Linked DNA regions of Homo sapiens. The protein of the gene in region 1 purifies or fractionates together with the protein of each later gene. This does not show direct contact. Each region holds a gene or a part of one and is shown on either strand. Other genes may lie near its edges.

Evidence for each region. Proteins that work in one complex are often made in the same cells at the same time.
Region 2: the proteins of DTX4 (region 1) and HLTF purify together in Homo sapiens (affinity purification with mass spectrometry, with the first as the bait; one large-scale study listed by BioGRID). This does not show direct contact.

Annotation. Positions count from the first base shown.
Region 1 is NC_000011.10:59,171,051-59,174,805, reverse strand, and holds the start of DTX4 (E3 ubiquitin-protein ligase DTX4), read right to left. Parts: upstream 2,211-3,755; coding exon 2,000-2,210; intron 1,542-1,999; coding exon of another isoform or gene 1,361-1,541; intron 1,108-1,360; exon of another isoform or gene 309-1,107; intron 1-308. Other genes in the region: basic proline-rich protein-like, read left to right, coding at 1,361-1,541, 2,076-2,884. UniProt on the Homo sapiens protein: Regulator of Notch signaling, a signaling pathway involved in cell-cell communications that regulates a broad spectrum of cell-fate determinations.
Region 2 is NC_000003.12:149,029,498-149,032,106, reverse strand, and holds the end of HLTF (helicase-like transcription factor), read left to right. Parts: 3' UTR 1-1,980; downstream 1,981-2,609. UniProt on the Homo sapiens protein: Has both helicase and E3 ubiquitin ligase activities. Possesses intrinsic ATP-dependent nucleosome-remodeling activity; This activity may be required for transcriptional activation or repression of specific target promoters.

The DNA of each region.
Region 1 (3,755 bases):
AGGGAGCGCCAGCCTCTGACTAAATTGCTCACCACCAGGCAGTCCTCAGGTAAGAGTGATCAGACCTGGGAAACGTAGCTTCTTTCCTTCCACCCAGTTTTCTCTACAACTTCGCTTCTGTAGAAAGGGTCATGAACCTTTGTAGATACCTTGCCTATCCTAAGTACCCCCAAACACAGATTCCACCTTTGCCCTTTCCAAATGTGGGAAAGGGGCTGAGACGTTTCTGTCACAAGGGTGGTTTTCCAAATGCTGTAGAGATTTACTCTGAAATAGAAAAGGTAACACCTGCTTTTTTTTTTTTCCAGGACTGGAATCCCCTGTCAGATGCTTTAACTGCTGGTCTCTCTCTCTCTCTCTGGTCCCACCTCCGTGGCTCAGCTCCGCCCAACACACACCCCCTCCACCCTCACCTTCTGATGCCTCCACCCTCACCTCCACAACCTTTACCCAAGTTGCGCAATGACATTCTCTCCCTCCCCCTCAGCCACACTTAATCCTCTTTCTCAATCTCCCCACATTCCTCTCTATTCTCTGCTCCTCCCAGTCTCCCTCAGCTCCACACACGGTTGAAGCCCCTCCAGATTCTAACACTTCCAGAATCCTCTCCCCAGAAAGCTCTCCTCAATCAGCCAGTGTCTGCAGAGTCCTTGGCAAAGGGGTTGCTGGGAGTTATGACTAAAGATGGGGACATGAGGGTGGAAAGATACCCCTTTCCCATGACAATCCTAATTAGCACACAGGATGTGGGGGCTTTCCAAGGAAGCAGAGAGACTCTGCTCAAACAGCTGTTCACTGGGGAGGGCCTTTCCGAGTCATCTTCTCTACGTCCTCCCCAGCACACCGGCCTCTCCAGGCTCCTCGGTTGCACTCTTGGGAAAGCCGAGCCAGAATTCCAGAAACAATGGCCCCCTCCCCACCTGTCACTGACGGAGGCAGAAACTCTTCCCGGGTCATCGATTAAGCAAGGACCGAGCAAAGAGAGGCAGTTTTGCTCTCCCTTGGGCAGCACCCCCACTCCCCACCCCCCAAGGCCCCATCCTGGAGGCTCCCTTCCTGGCTCTGACCTGGAAAGGCAGGTCAGCTGGGAAGCGGGTTTGTGCTGGCTACAGTGACAACTTGATTCTCATGAAAAGATAGGAGTTTGGCGCTCCAGGAGACCATGGGTTCCTTACAGGCTATGGTTTCAAGAGGAAGCCTGGGGACAGTTTCTCCTTAGGAATCTGCGTCCTCCTCCTCCGCAGACAAAGGGAGCGGCTTCCCTGCCATGCATTCCGAAGCCCCGAGCCTCCCCCTCCTCTCTCCATCTGCTCCGGCCTGTTGCTTCCGCGCATGTAGTGTGTAGCAGAGGCATTCGCCAATGCCGCGGCGTCCAGGGTACCCCAGCCCTAGTCTCTCCTCCCAGGGAGCCCGGCGCTTCCCTTACCCGACTGTAGCGAGAACCTCCGGGGAATCCCTTCTTCCTCCCCCAGTTCCCACACCCAGGACCCAGCTGCGGGGAGGCATCCCACACAGGAGACGCAGAGGCAGTGAGATCGGGGGTGAGGGGACGTGTGGCAAGCCCCAGCGTGCCTGAAGCAAAACAGGGTCAGGTCAGCCAAGGTGCCGGCCGCCACGGGATGAGGGCAGGAAGCCTTTGCGAAGGGCTGGGATTGCCTGTAGTCTGGGGCGGCCCTAGAATTTCTACATAGAAAGACTTAGGGCCACCAACTGCTGAAAAGCGGGGGCATGAAAGGGGTGGGGAGTGGATTGTTACCGACTAGGTTGAAGCTGGGTTTGCAAAACCACAACACTGATACTATTTGCATGGATGTTTAAGGGGGAGGGAGGATCCTGCGAGGATTCAGCGGAGTGAATCGCCTCCCACCACCACCTCTTGGTGACACTGCTGCACAGAAGTGCCGACTAGGTGGCCAAGGTGGGTTCACAGGGAGGGAGGTACCTTGGCAGGTTGGGAAGGTGGGAGCAGGCGGGGCGGGGTCAGGGGCGGCTGGCTCACCCGTGTCTTGGCGGAACTGGTTCATGGACTGCAGGTCGATGATGTAGGGCGCGAGACGGCTGTCCACCTGGCCCAGCACCACGCTGCCCCCCGCGCGGGGGCCGGCGCGGACCACCGCCTCGATGTGGTGGCTCACCGCTGGGCTGTAGGGACGCCAGCGGCCGTGCTCGTTCAGCCATTCCCAGACCACCACGGCCGAGGCCAGGAGCATGGCGAGCCCGGGGCTGCGGCGCTGCGCGGCCCGCCTCCCGGGCCCCGAGCGCCCGACCTCCTCCGCTTCCTCCTGCGCCGCCGCCTCCGGGCCTCGACCGCGCCCCCTGCCCCGCGCCCCGCCGCCCCGGGCAGCCTCAGCTCCGGCCCATGGGCTCCTCCCCAGCCGTGCATCCACCGGGGCCGGGACACCGGGGCCGCCTGGCTGGGACCGCGCGCCGCCGCCGCCGCCGGGGTCCGCTGCTGCTGCCGCTGCTCTGTGGGGTCGAGTCGCTTCATGCAAATGCCCGGCTCTCTGCAAACAGGCCCCCGCCTTGCAAAAGCCACTCGGCGGGCGCGCGGCCCGAGCCCCGGCGGCCGCGAGCTGGGGCTGACGGCGAGGCAAGGACCCAGCCCTCGCACCAGTTGCGCCTCGGCCTCTGCAGACGCCGGGGTGGGATCTCGCCGCACGGCCGCGCTCGGAATGGCACGCTCTGGTCCCCTCCCCTCTCTCCCTCCCTCCCCACCCCTTCGCCGCACGAATTGCAGTCCCCGCCGCTGGGAGAGCTCCCCCTGCCTGTGGCTCTGCTCAGTTCCTTCCAGAATGAACCACCCCTCCCAAGCAGGGCGCTAAGGCAAACCCGCGCCCGCGTGTGTTTCCCTGGTTCCTTGATGCAGAGAAGCGACCCGCCATGACACGGCCCCGGGACCACCACTGTCGCCCAGCCGCAACTTTGCAGCCTCCTTCCCCCAAATGTAATTTTCTCTCTCTCTCTCTTTTTTTTTCCTTAATGCAGCATGATCAGTGTCCGCAGCGCGAACTGGAGACACGCATTGTCTCGGGGCTTGCGCACGCACTGGCACACTCACAGTCGCACACACACGCGCGCGCACCCCAACTCCTTCCTTGCCCCGGCTCCTATTACCTCATCCTCTCCCGCATCCTTAGCTGTCCGTCAAGGAAGCAGAAGACACGCCCCCTGCTGCTCGGGCGAGTGCCCTGGAGCTTACCCGCCCCCTGCTGGCCTAAAGTGTCGTGTGCCGGCCAGTGGCCACTCCAACCTCTGCTAATGAGACCCAGTCCAAAGGGATGCAGCAATTTCGCTAATGATGGATTTATATTACCTACGTAGAGAGCAAATGTGGTTTTTCTGGCCAGATTCAACGTACTAGAGTCAGGAAGACGCATGTTAGATTAATTTTATCTGCATCGTTTCTGTAACTAAAATTATGAAACACTAGGAAAAACACGAGTTAGACTTATTTTGATCATCAATAGTTAATATGGAAAATAACCTTAAATAGGTAGGTTCTGACTAAAAGGGAAGACTGAAGTCAGGATTATGCATTATCCTTGTCAAAGAACACAAATTTTGTTTTGTTGAGATTGCAAACCACATAAAACAACGAATCGAGTCTTATCAAGATCCAAGTTATAGGATGCGGGAAAGTAAAAATAGATTATGTGTTAGAGAATGGGATTGTGAATCTTTTTGAAATAATCAATTTTTTCATAAATATCATATGACCCTTTTATGTTTTAGAAGAGTTGCTTCCCCCTCCCTCT
Region 2 (2,609 bases), on another chromosome or scaffold:
TTTATATTAGTGAAGAGGTATTACTGACACAATTTCTTCTATATATGAACCTATTTTTAATGAAACTTCAAATAGCAATAAGTTCCGTTATATACTGTGGCCTGAAATAATTTGAGAAAAAAGGTTACTTTGTTATTCAGCTTTTCATAATATCTATGCTGAGTATTTTCACGTATCTTCCAAGTACTCAGCTTTTTCGTATTTCAAATAAGGTCAGACCTTTTATACTTTTGACCAAATAGTTATTTTCTATGTTGGACACTTAGTTATTTACCAAAGCCTCCGATTTGTGATGCAGTGTTTGTAGTCCTTGTAAACAATATATACAGACTATACAAGAATTAATTTTATTGGGCTTTCAAAAACCATATTTGCATTCCAGAACCAAATCTTAAATGAGACCAAAGTCCAGGTTAGCACAGGTTTTTATTTTTCCTACAGCTACATTGAGATATAGTTCACATAAATGACTTGGAGTTTTATGTTCATGAAAAAATTAGGGATTATGTTAAGAGTACTATTTTTTCCATTTTAGTTAAGTAGTACTACACTCATTGTTTAAATGTAACTTGCTGTGTCTGAGGTATAAATATAGTCTGTGGGAGTGAGAGGCAAACCAGTCCTACCCAATTTGATTTGAATATTTTAAATTATGGAACTGCTAAATAGATATTTCTATAAATAGATAATTTTTATTTATGTAGCTTTTTTTGGAAGTAACTTTATAAATTTTTATAATTCAGAAGACTACTATATGTGAGAGGCGTGATATCTGGATGGAAGTTGGGCTGGATGATCTCCAAAGTCGTTTCAACTCTTAAAGACATCTTAATCCTGAATGTAAACAATTGTTATGTGTTTAGAATCAGAATTTGATTTTGAACTTGAGTAATTCATCCTTACAGCTATCTGTAGAATTAGTCATCTTTTTTCTTTTCTTTTTTTTTTACTTTTTTGTTAATAAGCAAACTTATTTGCTGCAGAATTTGGGTTGACTCCTGAGCATATTTAAAACAAAGAAGCTAGAAATTTAGCAGTCAGATTAGGTAGGTGGTTTTATTTCAAAGGGAAACTTTAATCCAAAGAAAGATTAATTACTCTAACAAACAAGAGAAGCTTCATGTTTGATGATACAGATTTAAGAATACCTGAGACTTAAGAGTGTTGGAAGTCATTTGATAGAAAGATGAGATCGGAGACAATGTTGTGTTATAGGGCACACATTGAAGGTATATGCCAAATCTCTCACCAGATAAGTCCTTTTCTCCCTGTGCCGTTTTCTTGCTCAAAGGGAACAGTGAATTAGCCAGCTAGAATCTTCCTGGTCCCTTTTTGAGGCAGTAGCAGGTAAGGAAAGGGCTGATTTTCATCAAAACCAAGACCTTTCTGCAGGGATGATAGTGGAATAATAATGTGGGATTAGCCCGCTAGCATTAGGAGCAGTTGGGAAGTTACCTGGTAGATCAAGCATTACACACAAAAAATCAAGTTGATCAGAGTATGGGTTCTCCATATAGCAATACTTCAGTGAGATTAAGTATAAACAGTTTTTGGCAAAAAACAACACAGTCTACTCTTTCTGCTTACAAAGACAAAGCCTTACAAACTCACTATGAAGGTAAAGGGAGGACAGCTTGCTTCTTTGCCCAGACATTTACAAAGTTGTTTTTAAAACACACTCATAAGTAAGTTTGGCAAGTTGTTTAAAAAATGTCTCTTTGTTTTGTACAGTTCTGTTAGATGTTGTTATATTTTAAAAGTTTAATTTAAAAAATTTAATTTGTCCTTCCTAAGAAGGATAAATATATAAAAAAGCCACTGGAATGAAAACTTCCTATATGCTATGCTGTTGTCTTATTATTATATAGAAAAATAACTTTAGAAAAATATTGAAGACATTGTATTACCACTTGTGATTCAAACAATTTTGTGGTTAAAACTGGATTTTAAATTTAAAAATCAATAAAAATTTCAAATGTTTATTACCTTCCTCGGTGCCATAATTTTGACTTTATCTTCAAATAAAATCCTTCATTAATTGTGACATTTCTATGCAAGTGTTACATTTTTTTGAGAGTACATGAAGATTACTGTAACAGAATAATGTCCTCATATCCTAACTAACTTTATTTTGCTCAATTTAGCTGGTTGAAATTCTTGTTCAGAAATCAAGAGTGCTTATTTAAAATGCCTTGATCTAAAAACATTGGTCCCAATTAATTTCTTCATCTGGAAGAAAAAAAGGAGTTGTGATAATACCTATATATACACAGATAGCACTCTTAATCAATCATTGTACATTTTGTCCTTAAAATTACAGCTCTAGAATTGGAAATACAAACTAACCCTATGTAGTTTGTTACCAGTGAGTACTAATGATCTTCGGCAGTGTGTGCTTTGTTTTGGGGAATGGCAAAGACATTGCTGTATTTTTTTCTTGTTTTATTTATACTACTTGTCAAGGTTTATGCATTAGCATTTGGATGAGATTCATTAAAAATATAAGGGCACATTTGATGTTTGGCTCTTAACAAAAACTCAAATGTTTAACCTCAAGTTTTTAACACATTAACTTCAAAATATCTGCAAAATGTGTTATACAGCAGGAC